Linked DNA regions of Homo sapiens. The protein of the gene in region 2 interacts with the protein of the main gene of each other region in a pairwise test. Each region holds a gene or a part of one and is shown on either strand. Other genes may lie near its edges. The genes, in order: BMP10, KIR2DL3 and INSIG2.

Region 1 (3,653 bases), on a different chromosome or scaffold from region 2:
CCATGGAGGACCAATGTGCTCCAGAGGGCAACTCCTGGTCAAGGCAGGAAAACAGAAGAAACCAGCATGAAATCTGTTCCTGAGACAATAGGAAAGCAAGGCCATGAGTACTGGCCATTGCTGCTGCAGAGAGTAGAGGGGTTGGGAGGGTACTTGAAGGGGAGAAAGGGAGAAAGGGAAGAGGATATTGATGTTATCCTCAGAGGCTATCCTCAGATGTGTCTGTAAAACCAAAAGTGGTTCTGTTTAAAGAATTAAATCTTTTGGACAAAATAGAAGTATCAAAGACTAAGAGGAGGAAAATCAGAAGGGGTCTGTCTGTTGGAAGAAAGGATGTTAATATCTTTCTTCACCTGTTAACACTGTTCCCTTGTCTCAGCACCCCTGCTTTCCTCTGCTCCATCTTCTTCCTTCCCTCTTTCTTCTTGGCCCTAGTGCCTCTCACCTTCCTCCCATCCCTGTGTCCCTGCTCTTCCCTGGCCTTCATGATGCATGCTGTGAACTGGAAAGGGACACCTAAGTGCCTTTGCTCTCAGGGTGAAAGGAGTTAGTGTTCTAATTTCTAAATCTTCCCGTGATATTTAATTTGATTTTATTTTAATAATATCCTTTATCAAATGTTTTGTTCATGAAGAATACTTAGATATAAGAGAAAAGAAAACCAGAATAAGTAAGTATAAGAAAAAGAAAACCAGAGTCCAAATGAATGGATTTAAATAAACGAATTTATGAATAGACACACAAGCAAATGACTCAAAAGCCAAGCCTGAATTTTGAAATCATGATTGTTTCATGGTAGAAACCCAGTAACTTTCCCATCTTCTCATCTTACCATCTTCCCATTTTGCAACTGGCCAGGACTGAAAGTGGTGAGGAAGTGTTCTGCACAGGAAGGGTCCGGTGGGTTTTCCTGGCAGGTGGCAGCCTCCAGTCTTAACCCCTAACCATTTCCCTCTACCTGGCAAGCATATTCTGGGCTTTGTGCAGGAGGAACCAGAGCAGAGCAGAGCAGTTTCCAAACTGTTCCAGCATCTCCAGGCAGGGAACATGGATGGTTCCTGTTAGAACCAGGAATGTGGTTTCCAGTACGTCATCCCCCATTCACCCCTACTCATCTTAAGGAATGCTTCCTTAAGAAGTCTGACACTTTTTTCTTTTTTTTACCCTGGAAAACAATCAGTCCCCTTTTACAAATCTCTTAAGGTTATAAACTCAAACTGCACTAGACAATAGAGGCAAGGAAAACTATTTTGAAGAAGGCCCAATTTGAACCTCAGCTCGCTAGATCTGTTGTCTGCTGGGTGAATCCTGGGGAATTCATTGCTCATGGAAGAGTGGTGTTTTGACCGTCAGTGGGTATACAGTGATTGATGCTTTGAGAAAGCCATGCAACTCAGAATCACTATTTGTGGAACAGCCTCCATATAACATGATGTGTGTATGTGTGTGTGATGTATAGCTGGCTTTGAATAACCACGCTTAATACCCTCAGTGGAACGTGGTGCATCCTTCATACTCCATGGTACACAATGTATACTCACATACTCCAAGGTACTTCTTATCCTTTCTAAAGGACACTGTAATACATACACAGTAAAACCTCAGCTGACCAGGATAGTCCTGGTTAGATAAAAATTAAGCAAATTTTCTTTATGTCTAATACATATGACAGTGGTGTGCTGGTAAAACCCTTACAACCAGCAATCCAGGGGGAGAAAAAGCCCTGATTTGTGGATTTCAATGCTGCAAACGCTCCTACATGGTCTATCTTGAGCTGCCAAGGTGATGTCAACTGGCTTGCAAAACTTCTAAAACCTAAGTCAGCTCTTGGGAGCTGTGCACTGGTGCTGGCACACCGCTGACATTTAGTATCCCACTGACATTAGCACACCGCTGACATTAGCACCCTGATACTAGAATGTTAAGGATGTGCCAGCCCTGCTTTCCACTGTGTGCGCTGCTGGCTCCGGGCTTCTGGAGAAATCTTGTCTCGAGCACTTATAGTCACTCTTCTGTTAAAGAGATATGAAAATATAGGCTGTTGGCGATCAGGCTGCATAGCCCAGTTGTTTCTTTCTGCCCATCCAGATGTAAACCTGCATTTCTATGATTTTCTGCTTCCCTGTGGAAAGGGAGTGCAGAGAGCAACATATTGTTATTCAAATGTTGCTAGTTGTATTTTTTTGGCTTTTTGTCAGAAAGTGAAAAGACACAGCCCGTAGAGGAGTTCTCCCAGCTCCCACCGGAACCCCGGCAGCACACCGGTGTCACTTTCAACTCCTGCATTGACAGGAAGCCAGAATATTGTCAGATCCTTAAAAAGGTAGAATCTTACTAATGTTTCTCTGGTCATAGACCTTCTTCTGGGTCCCATGCCAGTTTTTTTCCCCCTTTTATTGCAGAATTATCATCACCGAAGTTGATATAGCTAAACAACTCTTGAGGAGAATTATAGCAGAGGGACTTGGGCAGCCCACAGCCAAAATATTCATGTAAGAGTTTCTAGGCTTCCCACTATTTATTGATTGATATATTTATTTTTGTAAAATATTGTAGAATACCAAATATTTTATTTTTATGTCTGTGATTCCCTTTTGGATAGAGAGTCTTCTGGGCTTCAGAGTATGGCTCACATATAATATATGGCCTGTATTTCCATCTCTCTCTTTTTGCATCAGAATATTCTATTGGTTTAAGGAATCTTGCCATAGCTTGCCATAATTTTGTATATTTGTGTCTTGCAGGCATGCTGTGCCTACAAGCATGCTTTGTAGTATATTTTCTGATTTGTAAATAGTACAGTTTTAACTGAAGTGTAGATGTTCCAGGAAATATTTAACCAATACATTGTCATGCAGTTTCATAAAGTGATGTTGTCAGTTTATCATGAGAAGCAAATATTGTCAGGCTGTGAGAGAATGTGATTGCTACTCAGTAAACGGAGATGCTATTTAAATGAATCTTTTCATCCCCCAAATCTGGTACTTCCCCTCTGAATTCACCTGTTGCCGTCACTGACCCAGAAATTCAGAGATGTGATTGGTCAAATTCATTTGTAATTGGACCAATTACTTTGTAAATGTCAAAAATGTTAGCTTAGTGATTTCCAAAAGAGTCAGCCCCAAAGTGCCGAATTCTTTCCTGATGTGTAAATTTTGGTCCGGGGAATTAATGACAAAAACCTTTTTTTTTTAAGAACTGTTACTAAATGTTTCAGTATTTGTTATGATTTATATTCTTCAAGTAAAAGATATTTTCATATAAGAGAATTTTATGTATTCTTCTTACTTGATTCATCAACAGATTATGAAGCCTAGCAGTGTTCTGGCAAAACCTTTTTAACTTGCCTAGAACACAGAAGGGATGTTGCCCTTTTTAAGGTTGTAGATCTTTTCAGAGTCACTGTGGGTCATTCTCAACCCTTTGCAGTTCTGCAAGCTCACATATGGTGCAAGAGGAAATGCTGGTATGACTCTGTGCATTTTCTTGCCCCCAAACAGGAACAGTTGATTTCCTACATTAAATGGAAGGTAGATGTGACTATGGAAGAGAAGTACACAGGGGTGTTTCTGCATGTGAAATATTTGTCATAAGTTAAAAACCCATCATGGAATAACTGTTTGTTGTGATCAGCATGTTTTTATCACACATGG
Region 2 (3,653 bases):
CTTCCCAATGGATCATTCATTTATAGATCCACTTGTGCATTCATTTTCTGCCCTCCCATTTAACCATCTGCAATATCAGTGTCCCAAGGGCAGAAGCCAAATGCATCTTGTTCACCGTTTGTGGAAGGCAGGAGAATGCTGTCCCACCCCAAAATGTCCCTGTCCTAGCCTCCATAGCTTGTGAATATGTTATTTTACATGGAAAGGAGGAATGAAGATTGTAGATGGAATTGCGGTTGCTAATCAGCTGAACTTAAAACAAGGGTATCCTGGATGATTTCCAGGAGATTATGAGGGATTTTCATCTTGGTGAACCCAATAGAATCCCCAAGTTTTCAAAAGATAAGGAAGAAGGGAGAGCAGCATTCAGAGAAAGAGGTGTGGTAAGGAAGAAGGCACTGAGTGATGCCATGTGAGATGTGACCAGTCTTTGTGGGCTTTGAGGAAGGAGGAAGGGGAACAGGAGCCAAGGAACTGGGAGCCTTTAGAAGCTGGGATAAGTGAGAAGCAGATTCTTGCCTGGAATCCTCAGAGGGAAGGCAGCCTTGCTGTCACCTTGATTTTAGCCCAGTAAGATGCACTTCCTACTTTGAGCTACAGCACTGTAAGATAATTAAAAAACCGTTTTGTTTTCACCCACGAATCTTGTGGAAATTTGTTATGGCAACAATAGGAAAAGGTTCCGCACTGCACAGCCTGAGCATGGGGCCGTGGCTGAATGAGTCAGTGAGTCGAAGTGTGCGTGCATGAGCTCCGTTCTCTGTTACGGCAAGGCTGTTGCTCTGCTGAGTCAGCCAGGGTTGCTTCATGACCAACAGTAATTCATTCCTTGGCAAGTGGAACTTCTCTAAAACACCTCGCCCTCATCAGATGTTCCCTTCCCTTCCCTCTCTCAAGCCCCCAGGAATTTATCCTCCAGTTAGGAATGCAGGCAGAACAAACATTGCATTTTTCCTGAGAAGGATGTCAGATTGGCAATCATTCTTCTAGCTTGTAGGAGGTCTCAGCTCCATAAAATGAGAGATTAAGAGATTTCACTGAGCCCTAGGTTGGGCCCAGATCCCTTTCGCTGTTGGAGTATCTGGAGTTCGGAGATGGTAGAAGACAGGCGTACAATGTCAGAGCTGCGAGATGCTGAGTCAATGCCTGCATCGAAGGTTTCTACCTCCCCAGGTTTCCAAAAGCGGATATAAGAGGGTTCTGTACTCACCGGTTTCGGAGCTTGGTTCAGTGGGTGAAGGCCAACTATTTGAAGGGTTTCCTAGAACACGAGACAGGAGAGAGGTGAGGAAATGAGGGTGTCTGTCCTCTACTCAATGGAAATCTTTGAGGTTGGTTCATGGCCAACACTCTGTTATCTAATATTGGGCCCTGGGAGTCCTGGGATCCTTTTTTCCGTAATTTTTGTATGTGACGCCCACTGTCTTGAGACTTCAAGGTATAAAGAGAAAACAGGAGCATCACACTACCTGATCTCAAAATATGTTACAGAGCTGTAGTAAGCAAAACAGCATCACATTGGCATAAAGAAAGGCACGTAGAACAATGGAGCAGAATGAAGAACACAGATATAATCCATGCATTTACCTCCAATGTTTTTTTCTTTTTTCTTTTGAGATGGAGTCTCGCTCTGTCACCCAGGCTGGAGTGCAGAGGTGCAATCTCGGTTCACTGCCACCACAGCCTCCTGGGTTCAATCAATTCTCTGGCCTCAAACTCCTGAGTAGTGGTATTACAGGTGCTGACCACCATGCTCAGCTAATTTTTATATTTTTAGTGGAGACAATGTTTCATCACGTCGGCCAGACTAATCTTGAACTCCTGGCCTCAGGTGATCCACCCGCCTTGGGCTCCCAAAGTGCTGAAATTGCAGGTGTCAGCCACCATGCCCAGCCCATCCAATGGACTTTGACAAAGGTGCCAAGAACTCACAATCAGGAAAGGACAGTCTTTTCAATAAACAGTGCAGGGAAACCTGGACATCTACATGCAGAGGAATGAAACTGCACCTCTACCTGTCACTATACACAAAACTCAAATGAAAATGGATTAAAGATGTGAGTCTAAGGCCTGAACCTATGAAACACGTAGAAGAAAATATTGGGGAAATGCTCCAGGACATTTGTCTGAAGGAAGACATTTTGTTTTAAACCTTCAAAACACAAGTAATCGAAGCAAAAATAGACCATTGGGATTACCTCAAACTAAGCAACTTCTGCACCGCTAAAAATAAACCAACAAAGTGAAGAGACAACCCACAGATTGGGAGCAAATATGTGCAAACTATGCATCTGAGATGGGATTAATAACTAGAAATATAAGAAGCTCAAACAACTCAATAAAACAAACGATTTAATTGAAAAAGGAGCAAAACACATGAAATTTCCCCACATACTAAAAAGTGCTCAGTTTCACTCATCATCAGAGAAACACAAATTAAAATCAAAGTGAGTTTTCATCTCACCCCATTAAAATGGATTTTAGGCCGGGCGTGGTGGCTCACGTCTGTCATCCTAGACCTTTGAGAGCCTGAGGTGGGTGAACCTCATAAGGTCGGGAGTTTGAGACCAGTCTGACCCACATGAAGAAACACTGTCTCTACTAAAAATACAAAATTTAGTTGGGCGTGGTGGCGTGTGCCTGTAATTCCAGCTACTCGGGAGGCTGAGGCAGGAGAATCGCTTGAACCTGGGAGGTGGAGGTTGTGGTGAGCCGAGATCGCACCACTGCACTCCAGCCTGGGTGACAAGAGCGAAACTCCATCTCAAAATAAAATGAAATAAAATAAAATGGCTTTTAGCTGCAAGACAGGCAAAGGAAATCCTGCCAAAGTGGTAGAGAAAGGAGAACCCTAATACCCTGTTGGTAGGAGTGTAAATTAGTACAGCCTTTACGGAGAAAAGTGTGGAAGTCCTTTAAAGAACTAAAAAGAGGTTGGGTGAGGTGGATCATGCCTGTAATCCCGGCACTTTGGGAGACCGAGGCGGGCACCTCAGTTGAGGTCATGAGTTTGAGAGCAGCCCAGCCAACATGGGGAAACCCCATCTATACTAAAAAAAACAAAAAGTAGCCAGGCATGGTGGCGTGCACCTGTAATCCCAGCTACTAGGGAGGCTGAGGCAGGAAAATCATTTGAACCCAGGAGGCGGAGGTTGCAATGAGCCAAGATGACTTCACTTGTACTCCAGCCTGGGCACAGAGGGAAACTGTCTCAAAAACAAAAACAAAACAACAAACGAATAACTAAAAAGAGAACTTTCATAGTATCCAGCAATTTCACTACTGGGTTTATATCCAAAGGAAAGTAAATCAATATATCGAAGTGATATCTGCACTCGTATGATTGGTGCAGCACTGTTCACAGTAGCCAAGATGTGGAGTCAACCTACCTGCCCATCAGTGGATGAATGGATAGAGAGAATGTAGTACATACGCACAGTGGAGACTACTCATCCATAGAAAGAATAACATCCTGATATTTGCAGCCACATGGATGGAACTGGAAGTCATTACAAAGATTCCCATTTCTCACCCATATACAGAGCTAAAAGGTGGATCTCATGAAGGTAGAGAGTAGAATGGTGGCTTCCAGAGGCCAGGAATAAAAGGGTGGAGGGTAAAAAAAAAAAAAAAAAAAAAAATATATATATATA
Region 3 (3,653 bases), on a different chromosome or scaffold from region 2:
CCTAGCAGACCAATGGTGCAGCATTTGAAAAAGGCTGTGTGACCACCCTTCTATCTCGAGATGAGATGCTGCAATACTGTATGCATTTTCTAGTCCACAACTCTTTTGAGTTAGGCATGTGCTGAGTATAGATGGCTCACAGAACATCAAGAGATTAAGAACATATCTCGGCAATGCAGAGCTCCAATAACTATTAGTAAATCTAGAAGTTTCACACTATATTCCTATTTAAAAATCTGCTCCAAAATCCTGACAAGATTAACTGACAGGATTTTAAAATTTCTATACAAATAAAATGGCAACAAGCATCCCTAACAGTTGAAATGTAGTTAAACGAATATCACCTCTTTTTTTCTCAAGGGGTCATAAAACTAACAGCTCATTTGTCACCCCCATCCCCCCACCATATATATCCTCCCTTTGCCTGTTGCTGAGTAAAGTCAACTAAGAGCAGACATTCCAAGTCAATTTTCCTGAGCAACTGATGCCTAGGTAAAGAATTATTACATAGAGAATACTGACATGTATGTGCAAAGGTATAAATAAGTAAAATCGACTATATTTTTATGCATGTGATGTCAGACTTGCAAGTGAGAGACAACTGAGGAGAGAAAGCAAAAACACAAAAAGAAATTTAAACTGCCACACTGCCAACCCTGGGATTTGCCAATAAAAATCAAATCCATTGAGTATGCATGGTTCTCAGTTGCTCACTGAGAGGGAGAATTCGAAGAAGCTTGTCACTTCCCATTAAATGTCTTCTTTCTTTCCTTTAAATAAAGGCATGGCAGAGTCTGATAGCAATATATACAACACTGTGAGGTTCCACTGTTTGAGAGCTCAACAGAGTATGTCTGGGCCTCTTTTCCTCTTCTTGTACTTTTTTTTAAAAAAAACAAGAAAGACTGTTAAAATCATGCCTGTGTAAAATCATATGCAAACACAATCCTGCTTATAAATCAAATGGTTCTCTGATGCAAAAATCACATTTCTTGTGATACCTTTAAGTTATTTCCCAGTGACTAGTTACAGTCTACCAAAGCTAAACACTAAAGAAGTTTGTAAAATATCAGTAGTAAGTCATCACTTTTTTATGGGAATGTGCTTAAATGCAGGGAGGCACTAAAAGGAACACAGTTAAAGTCAGACATTTTGTAAGAAAACAGGAACTGAATAAACGAAAACACTCCATGAGGTATACTTCGACGCAAAACTATAAGATAATATTTTCCTTCAACAAATACTTAAGCCCTGACAATATGTCTGGTTCTTGGTATTTGCTGGAGATTTAAAAAGGTAAGGCCAGGCGTGGTGGCTCACACCTGTAATCCCAGCACTTTGAGAGGCCGAGGCAGGCGAATCGCGAGGTCAGGAGTTTGAGACCAGCCCGGCCAACATGGTGAAAACCTGTCTCCACTAAAAATACAAAAAAATAGCTGGACGTAGTGGTGGGCGCCTGTAATCCCAGCTACTCGGAAGGCTGAGGCAGGAGAATCGCTTGAAGCTGGGAGGTGGAGGTTGCAGTAAGCCGAGATGGCGCCACTGCACTCCAGCCCAGGTGACGGAGTGAGACTCCGTCTCAAAAAAAAAAAAAAAAAAAAAAAGGCAAAAGAGTAAGATACGATTCCAATTGCAAAGTGACCACAGAAACAATTAAATACAATCCTGCATTAAGGGCAGCTGACAGGACAGAGGGGTCCCAGGCTTCTCCTTGCCTGTGCTAGGGGAAGGCAAGGTGCTGGGCTGTCAGAAAAGCTTCACGGAAAGAGGTGACCCTTGAGGCAGGAGCATTCAGCAGTAAATGGCGCAGAAATAGTGCTCTCATTAAAGGGAGGTGGCTGAGGACATTCATGGAAAACTGGAAACTGCTGGTGTTAAGAGGAAGCTGTAAGCTTCAGACACAAAGGGAGCTGCAGGGTCCAGAAAGACTCTGAAGAAGAAAAAAGCAGTCAAGGGCCATATTATAAAGACTTTACCCTGCAGACAATGGGCAATCAGGAAAACAATGTCATCACTGTTGTACCAGAGAGAGGCCATCTTCTTAGCAGTGAGGGTACCATACAAGGGGGCTGAGAAAAGGGTGGGTGCAAAACTAGAGGCCGGCAAAGACTAAAGACTCCAAGCACAGCCATTGAGGGATGGACCAAGAAAGAGACAGAGGAAAGATGTAAGACTTGGAAACTGGATGTAGAACGGGAGAGAAAGCAAGGAATCTTACAAGGCTCTACAGGAATAGGGCAAGGGACTGCACAGCTAAACAGGAAAGATTTTTCTTTTCTTTTTACATTAGATATTATTTTCATACGTTTGGACACAACCAGGCTACTTGTGATTTTTGAGGCAACTTCTCTACTTATTTTATCCACACGAGTTGTCTTTTTCTATTTATTCTTTAGAAAGATTTCTTTGTGGCCCTCAATAATGCTGAAAAGATTTCTAATTCCAATTCTGGTGCATGGCACACATAAGGAAGTTAACTTGTAACATCAGCATTATCAAACTAAAAATATGGAATTAAGAAAAAAAAGTCATCAAAATTAGTTTACCAAAGTTCTCTATTAGTTGTCCCACCAGAACCACCACTAGCAAATTTTCCAGGATTGTGCTATAGAGAAAGGTGGCAAATAACAAGGAGCACTTTCTACACACAGAAGGTGGTGATTCTGGAGCCCCTCCAAAAGGTGGCTGCTCTATCTATGAATGTTAGTTGAACAGGAAAATCAAAGGATGATTATCAGTTTTTCTGACTTAAGATGGTAAGACCCTAGCGAGGTCTTGAAAATCCACGCCAACACATATACACAAAAACATATGCATATTACATACACACACAAACTCAAACACACTATGTTTCTTAAATCATTTACTTCTTTTCCCATGATACTTTCCCTAAAATAATGATGCAGGGGATGGCAGAGCAGAGATTTTGAGAGAATCCATTTTCCATCTCTGGCAACTTGGACAAATCTGATATCTTTCACTCTCATCTACTAAACACCATGACTTAACTAACAAAATTGGTAGCAGAATTGGCTGGAATCTAGATTTCCTAATGTCTCTCTACTTTCTTTTGCCCAAGTACCTTATGGTACAAACTGCTTTCAGAAGAAATACTTAAGCAAGAAATGTAAATGCAAATTCCCCAAATGAGGTTAAGTTTGTAAGTGTGACAAACCTAGTGGCTGGGAACAGGAAGGAAAGTAGTGGCTGAACTGTGGTATTAGCATTTGAAATTTTCCTTCCTAAAATGTAAGTTTATGGCAAAAGTGCTGACATTAAAGGGGCAGAAGGACAAGACAGCAGGTGCAGCCCTGTTACTCTTCATAGTGGAGGTACAATGAAACCTCAGTTAAGTTCTCCTGCCCCAGCCCAAATGCACAACACACGCCAGGGAATTCCATCTAGGTCTGGCACCCAGTCTGGAGGCTTGAAAAGTGGCATCCTGAGTAGGGGGAAAAGTGTGAGTAGCTTCCTTTTCCCTTCCCCAGCATGTGACATGTGGACCCAGTCACACCACTCACTGGCTCTGGGACCCTGGGCTCACTGGTTTTCTTTCTTCATCTCAGTGAGTGTCCTCATCTCCCCATAACAGGCACAATGCCAAACATCTCTCTCCCAAAGTTGCTCTACAGAACCCTGGGATTACAGGATGT

What was found.
Region 1: the proteins of KIR2DL3 (region 2) and BMP10 interact in binary tests that used the Homo sapiens proteins (3 or more experiments, as listed by UniProt).
Region 3: the proteins of KIR2DL3 (region 2) and INSIG2 interact in binary tests that used the Homo sapiens proteins (3 or more experiments, as listed by UniProt).

The regions. Positions count from the first base shown.
Region 1 is NC_000002.12:68,861,339-68,864,991, reverse strand, and holds part of BMP10 (bone morphogenetic protein 10 preproprotein), read left to right. Parts: 3' UTR 1-3,653. UniProt on the Homo sapiens protein: Required for maintaining the proliferative activity of embryonic cardiomyocytes by preventing premature activation of the negative cell cycle regulator CDKN1C/p57KIP and maintaining the required expression levels of cardiogenic factors such as MEF2C and NKX2-5.
Region 2 is NC_000019.10:54,744,943-54,748,595, reverse strand, and holds part of KIR2DL3 (killer cell immunoglobulin-like receptor 2DL3 precursor), read right to left. Parts: intron 1,262-3,653; coding exon 1,211-1,261; intron 1-1,210. UniProt on the Homo sapiens protein: Receptor on natural killer (NK) cells for HLA-C alleles (HLA-Cw1, HLA-Cw3 and HLA-Cw7). Inhibits the activity of NK cells thus preventing cell lysis.
Region 3 is NC_000002.12:118,098,325-118,101,977, reverse strand, and holds part of INSIG2 (insulin-induced gene 2 protein), read right to left. Parts: intron 1-3,653. UniProt on the Homo sapiens protein: Oxysterol-binding protein that mediates feedback control of cholesterol synthesis by controlling both endoplasmic reticulum to Golgi transport of SCAP and degradation of HMGCR.